2 linked regions of the Homo sapiens genome follow. The protein of the gene in region 1 interacts with the protein of each later gene in a pairwise test. Each region holds a gene or a part of one and is shown on either strand. Other genes may lie near its edges.

Evidence for each region.
Region 2: the proteins of MAMDC2 (region 1) and EFHC1 interact in binary tests that used the Homo sapiens proteins (3 or more experiments, as listed by UniProt).

What each region holds. Positions count from the first base shown.
Region 1 is NC_000009.12:70,042,186-70,046,104, forward strand, and holds the start of MAMDC2 (MAM domain-containing protein 2 isoform 1 precursor), read left to right. Parts: upstream 1-1,662; 5' UTR 1,663-2,012; coding exon 2,013-2,046; intron 2,047-2,398; coding exon 2,399-2,512; intron 2,513-3,919.
Region 2 is NC_000006.12:52,437,067-52,440,885, forward strand, and holds part of EFHC1 (EF-hand domain-containing protein 1), read left to right. Parts: intron 1-1,237; coding exon 1,238-1,525; intron 1,526-3,819. UniProt on the Homo sapiens protein: Microtubule inner protein (MIP) part of the dynein-decorated doublet microtubules (DMTs) in cilia axoneme, which is required for motile cilia beating.

The sequences.
Region 1 (3,919 bases):
AAAGCAAGAAAAGAAAGAAAAGGGTGGAGCAGGTCCTATAGGGCCTGGTTGGTCATCGTGAAGACTTTGGACTTTACTAAATGACTTGGGAACTTGTTGGGTCTTGAGCTAAGGAGTGACATGGCCCAATTTCTGTATTAAAAGGATAACCCTGACTAGTGTGTTCAGAATAGAGTAGGGTGGGCAGGGCAGAAAATGAAGGGAGACCGTGGTCAGGAGGCCACTGCGGTATCCCAGGTTGATGGCAAGGGCAGCTTGGACCAACCAAGGCATCACCACCATGGGCACAGAGCATGGTCAGCATCTGCTGTGTTTTGAATCCTGAGCTGATAGAAATTGGCAATGTCTGACAGGAACGGATGAGCTGAAGATGCCTCCAAGTTTTCTCTCCTGAACAACTGGAGGAAAATAGTTCTTTTACTGAGATGAGGAAGACACAGGGGACGGGCAGGTTTGGCAAGAAATATGCAGCCTTCATGTTGGGACCTGTTAAGTATGAAATAGCTCTGAAGCATCCGATTGGAAATGTTGAGGTGGCAATGAGATCGAAGAGTCTGGCGTTAGTGAGTAGTCTGGGTTAGAAATATAAATGTGGGAGTTATCAGGCTATCATTGGTATCTAAAACTATGAGACTTGAGGACAGCATTGAGGGGCTGGATAGAGAAAGAAACAGGAGTGACAGGGAAGAACTTGGAGGCACTCTCATGTTAAGGGGTTACAGAGGTAACGCAAAGAGGCCGAGAAGCGGCGGCCAATGAAAGACCAGGAAACCCAGCGGTCTGGAAGCCAGGTGAAGGCATGGGAGCAGGTTGAACTGATGGCTCAACTGGAGTTTGTTAGGCCAGTGGTCCTCAAAGTATTGTTCCAAACCCGCTGCGGCAGCAGCAGCCTCTGGAAACTTATTAGGGACGTGCAGCCTCTCAGGCCCACTCCAGAGCTACTGGATCGGAAACGGAGGGTGAGGCCCTTCAGCAGATTCTGATGCACCCTCAGGTTTTAAAACCACTGCCCTCCTCACAAAATTGCCTGCACAAAATTATAAATGGGAGAAAGGAGGAGGAGGAGGAGGAAGAGGAGGGGAGGAAGAAGAACTCTTTACAAGAAAAGAATATTGTTGGAGACCCACTTAGTGCCCAAAGCAAACAGCTTCCTCAGAAGTAACTCCCTCCCCAACAACCCCCTCCCAGTGTAAAGCCTCCCATTAATCAATCTATCATGGCTCTTTGGAGAGAAGGAATGCCCCCATTTCACCGGACGGAGGGAATGCTGAGCACCAGGCATGCCAGACATTCCACCGGCTAAAAAAAGTGGGGGTGGTATTCCAGGGTTAGCATTGCTGGACCGTAAACGCTGAAACTCCTTAGATATAAAGCTTATTCCACCCAACCGTTTCCAAATTTTCCTCCAGGCTGTCCTTGGAGAATTCCACCCTCTTTCATTCTGGGGAGAAGAAGTTAAAATTAGGGCCAGCCCTGCGGGACTGACATGCCAGATGCAGGGAAGCTGTCCCCAGAAATAAGCGAGTTCCCACCGCGGCTGGGCGGGGCGGGAGCCTCGGGTCCCAACCCAGCGGAGGGACTCCTGGAAGGCCTGCCCCTTCCAAGTGTCTGCAAGGGCTCTGGTCCCAAGCTTTAAAATCCTGAGCGAAGGCACTGCGGGCCGACCTCTCCTCTCCCAGCCAGTCGTGGCTGGCCTTTCAAAGTGTGCAGTTGTCTCCTCCCTGTCCAGCCCCATCGTCGCCCAGGACCAGCTGGGCCGCGGTCTGACCTGAGGCTGCTGCTCAGCGCCGGGGCGCTGGCGCTCTCCATTCGAGCACCTTCCAGCATACCGCTCGGCTCCGGGAGCCGCTCTGCAAAGTTGGGCAGCTCAGAGCGCAAGCTTTGCCTCTCGACTTCTCCCTCCTTGGGTCCCCGGCGCCCCCGCCTCCCACGATCCCTTTCACTAGGAGCAGCCAGTCCCAGCGGGCTGGCAACTTGCACCCCTTCCTAGTCATCCTCCCTGAAACGCGACCATGCTGTTAAGGGGCGTCCTCCTGGCGTTGCAAGGTAAGGCCTGGACCCCGGGACAACCCCGGGGGCGCTCTGACGACTCGCCCCCGCTCCTGCTGCCCCCGGGGGTCCGGCTCACCGTGCTGGGCTGGGCCATCCGAGGGCGCCTCCTGATCCTCCGCAGCCGCTAACTCCCTCCCCTGGCCAAGCCTGGGGTGGGGGTGGGGGTGGGCGTGGGGTCGCTCAGTGGAGGCGCCCGGGGATGCTGGGGGACAGGTACTGCATCCCTCTCCCGCCCCCTCCCGCTCGTCTTTCCCCCACTTTCACCAGGTAGTCCCCCTGGGGCTCCCCGAGTTGGTGCAAAGGCTCCTGGGTGGAGCTCGAACTGAAACTCGCTTTGTGCCCGCAGCCCTGCAGCTCGCCGGTGCCCTCGACCTGCCCGCTGGGTCCTGTGCCTTTGAAGAGAGCACTTGCGGCTTTGACTCCGTGTTGGCCTCTCTGCCGTGGATTTTAAATGAGGAAGGTAAGGAGGCTCGGTGGAGAGGGGCGCGAAGTGAACTTTCTTCCTTGATGGCTTGCTTTTTTTTCCCACATGGGTAATGTTATCTTGGAGTTAATTCTCCGCGGCAAGAAAAGTGTGAGTCATGGATCCTCCTTCAAGCCCTCAGCTGTGCTGCAAGGGATGGCCGAGGCAGGAACGGGGCGGGCGGGAGGCCGCCCTTTGTTTACCTGGCCTATGGGTAGAAGCTTAAAATTTGCGTCTCACCCCAGCACTCCTTAATGGAAGGGAGAAACGGAGCACAGCTAATGATTGTTCTCCGCTGTGGGCCTCTGCAGGCACACCAGCTGTGTGCCTCTGCAGGCCAGCAACCTTTCTGGTCCTCAGGAGACATGTCTGTGAGTTGGGAAAAGTTGCATGGGACTAGTTCTCCTTCAGCTTTGCAGAAATGGTTCCACAATTCTGTGATGGGACGTCAGTGCTAAGACATCACGTCTGCCTTGACCCTGACAGTGTTTTTTGCTGCATGATTTCATCCTCACACTCCTGTTTGTAATCCTGCCCTGGACAAAAGAAACCATGTACACTGCCAAATGCCTGGGGTCCCTGTCTCACTGGTGGTCATTGTCTTACTACTCTATACTGTTTGGGTCCCAAGGACAAAGTTTAAATGTGGGGTCTTCTGAAGTGTCATCTTGCCTTTATATAGTTTTTTTTGTTTTTTGTTTTAAAGTGTGGTTCTCAGTACCCAATGGCAGGCGGCACTGGGTGTCCCTTCTTTCCTTTCTCTCTCTTTTGTCACCACCAGTGAAGCCTGATGCCCACAGACTATTTGGATTGGAAAATAGCCTTCTTTAAAAAACATGGTACCCTAGATGAAACCAGCTCACCTCCTTCCCCACTCAATTGTCCTCAGGCCGCAGATCCTCCCACCTCGCTCCCTGGGGGAGGATGGAGCCCGGAACCCCTGGTTAGATGTATGAACTGTCACCACAGCTCACTCTGCCCCAGGCTTCTACTCAGGGTTCTGCATACATTAGCTTCTCTGACCCTCACAGGTAGGTGATGTTGGACCCGTTTTACAGAGGAAGGAATCTCAGCCATAGAATATTCAAATGGCTAGTCCATATCACAGTGTCACTGAGTGGCTAACTCTGAGTGTCTAGTTAGGAAGAAACAGGAAGGAACTGGTTCAGTAGTAATCTCCATCTTTATCCAACAATTGCCAAGTCTTGACTACTACAGTCTACTTAGGGGTGGCTGGGAAAAAGCAATTCTTGATTTATTATTCGAGGGATTCCTATCTTGCTGATGGCTTTAGGAAAGTCTCTGTAATCTTGCCACTCACCCTTTCCCTATACTGGCTGTATGGAAGCATTGCGGGAGATGGCCTTAGAAATGCCACGAGACTGGCTTTGGAGAGCACACTCC
Region 2 (3,819 bases), on another chromosome or scaffold:
GGTATTTACACACGTTTTAGAGATTGTATAGCGGATTGATGATGAGGGTATGTACACACCCTTCAAAGATTCTGTAGTGGATTGATGATGTGAAAGTCATTCATATAAAGTTTATAATAATGAACGTAATTAATATACATTTACAAAGGACTACACTTCTAAAGAAGTGCAATTAACCCTTCATTTTCAGTTTGAAACCAAAAATCGCAATCTTATCCAAGATTTTTTACTCTTCCCAGAAGTTCTGGGAGGGACTTTTGACATGGAGGTGAAGCTAGTAGAGTTAAGTCCTTTAAGATGTATTCTCACCAAGGAACATATGCAATAAATAGTTTATACACATTGTGAGTATTTAAAGCAGATGTCAGCAAACTTTTTCTGTAAAGGGCAGTTAGCGTATATTTTGGCCATTGCAGTGGTTTTAGCCTGCGTAGTCTGCCACAACAAAATACCACAGATTGAGTGGTTTAAATAATAGAATTTATTTTCTCACAGTTCTGGAGGTTGGAGGTCCAAGATCAAGGTGCCAGCTGGTTTGAATTCTGGTGAGGGCTCTCTTCCTGGCTTGCATACAGCGGTCTTCTTGCTATGTCTTCATGTGGCCTTACCTTGGTGTGTACATGTGGGAGTTAGGGGAGGGAAGTAACTCTCTTTCTCTTCTTCTCTTCTAAGGCAACCAGTTCTATGGGATTAGACTTAAAGGTGGCATACCTCTATCCTTAAGATCTGGTTTAACCTTAATTACCTCCTAAGGATCCTGTCTCCAAATATAGTCACATTGAGGGTTAGGGGTTCAACATATGAATTTTGGGGATGAGGGGGACACAATTTAGTCTGTGTATCTCTGTCACAACTATTCAACTCTTCCCTTGTAATGGGAGAGCAGCTGTTAACAAAAAAGCGTAAATTATTTACATAATTATTTGTGGATTGAAAATTTAAATTTTTATAATTTCCATGTGTTATGAAACATTTTTTAAAATTTTTTAAACCATTTAAATATGTAAAACCCACTCTTAGCTTGCAGGTCATAAAAAAAACAGGTGGCAGGTTAGATTTGTCCCATGGACTATAGTTTGCAGTATCTGTAGTTTTAGAGTATCAAGATTTACAGGATAGAAGTGATGAGTGTTAAAATCTCCCTGTGTGGTTCTGTTTTCAGGAAGGTACTTGATATTTTTCAGATGACTATGACAAGCTAATAGTACACCATTTCTCCTTTCCTTGTATGTTATAGGTACTGAAATTTGATGCCTATTTCCAAGAAGATGTTCCTATGTCAACTGAGGAACAGTATAGGATCCGTCAGGTGAACATTTACTATTATCTAGAAGATGACAGCATGTCTGTCATAGAGCCTGTTGTAGAAAATTCTGGAATCCTTCAAGGCAAGTTAATAAAACGCCAGCGGCTAGCCAAGAATGACCGGGGTGACCATTACCATTGGAAAGACCTAAATCGAGGAATAAACATCACAATTTATGGCAAAACTTTCCGCGTTGTTGACTGTGACCAATTCACACAGGTATAGCATATATTTTTGAAAGTTGTGGGGTCTGAGGCATCATTCTAATTTATAGAAGGATACATTTCATTTATTAGGGTAAGGGGAGGACATTGGTAATCTGTCCTGCATGAATTATTATGAATGGCTAGGTATTTGCATGTGTGTATGTGCTAATATGTGCCAACACTAATAGTAACATAATTTTTTCAGAATGATATTAATACTTATTCACTCAAAATCAAACTCTCATCATAGCTGAATAATTTGGTAAGAAACCAGGTTAAAATGGCAGTTCAAACAGGGAGTAGGGGAATAGCATCCCTGCTGGGATGTAAGTATGGAAGAGGGATTAAACGTTTTATCTTAAGTGTGAGTTTACAAAAATAGCACTACTTCTATTAGCAGATATGAGCCTAAAATTTTTTGTGTAGCTCATATATTTTTGGTAAATGATACTTGCTATATTCTAGGAAAGCTTACCATCTAAAGAATTTCTGAAATGAAACCATTTTTAAATGAAAAAACCTCTTCTATATGTAAAAAGTCCTCTATTTCGTAAGTTTGGATTTTTTAATACAAAGGAAACTTTTATTAAAGTTACATGCATAGAGGATATAGGTGGCCTTTCTTTACTACAAAGTGTAGGAATTAGGAAGTCAATTCCAAATTTGTCTTAGTTAAAAAAATATTTCTAGCAGCAAAGATATAGTTTCTGAAGTATTTTATGTCCCTATTCCAGGATACCTAGTGCCATATGTGACTAATTTTTACCATGCACTGAGCTCCTATGAATCCATTATTGTTTTCATTTAGTAGTTTGTTTAACAGATATTTATTTGCATGCCTGCTTTGTTCCATGCACTGTTCTAGGTGCCAGATGTTTTCAGGAAGGTACTTGATATTTTTCAGATGACTATGACAAGCTAATAGTGCACCATTTCTCCTTTCCTTGCATGTTATAGGTACTTGCCCCTATAGAGGTTCCAATCTTGTTGGAGGAGATAAGCAATAGCAAATAAATAGATTGGTTATATGTCAGATGATGATAACAGCAATGGAGGAAAATAAAGCTGAGTAAAGGGAATGGAAGTTGAGGGGCTCTTTATAGAGGCGGATCAGAGAATGCCTCAGTGATAAGATGACATATGAATAGAGGCCTGAAGGAAGTAAAGAAAGGAGCCATGGCATCAGTGCCATTCCAAAGCAATAGAGAAAAATAGCTTCAAAAGTAGAGGTGCTAGACCATCTTTGAGATATTCTCCCGTTCCAACATATTTTTATCTCTTTGCTTTTTAGGTGTCTGAGGTCTTATATATCATAGGCAGTTTCACAATTGTACCAACAGTGAGAAATGATAAAATGTTATCTAAACATAAATGTATTAACAATTATTTTTACAGTTGTGTTTTCATAACAATTATTTTTACAGTTGTGTTTTTATGGGCAATTTGAACATTTGCAAGTTAATCACTGAGCGTTTGACCTAATCTATTTATAGTCGGTTCTCATTATTGACAGTAATTAGGACTATAAAGTCACCACAAACACTGAATTAGTGAATACTGAACCACTAGTCTTAGAGGAAATACAGGGTTAGGTTCCCACTAATCTCTGGCCACATTTTTGTCAACTGATCAATACATAAGTTTGATTCATGTATGTTTCTGTTTAAAGACACCTTATTTAATATATACGGTTGATTCATTAACATTAAACTCACACCCAACAGCACTATAACTCACGTCTGAACAAAGCTTATCTAAGACATGCATTTTCTCCATGAGGTGTGTTACAGCCTTCTTGTGCTTAGGAACACTAAATAGCACTTCATCACTAGGCACTGGGACCCTTTAAACAGCAAAATCACCAACAAAAAACACAAAAATGCAAAAAATCTGGCACCTTCATGTATATGTATATGTATGTGTATATGTATCACATTTTCTTTTTCCAGTTTACCATTGATGGGCATTCAGGTTGATTCCATGTCTTTGCTATTATGAATAGTGCTGCGATGAACATACTTGCGGGTATGTCTTTATGGCAGAATGATTTATATTCCTTTGGGTATATACCCAATAATGAGATTCCTAGGTCAAATGGTAGTTCTGTTTTCAGGTCTTTTAGGAATCACTACACTGCTTTCTACAATGGTTGAACTAATTTATACTCTCATCACCAGTGTATAAACATTTCTTTTTCTCCACAACCTTGACAGCACCTGTTATTTTTTTACTTTTTAATAATAGCCATTCTGACTGGTGTGAGATGATATTTCATTGTGGTTTTGATTTGCATTTCTCTAATGATAG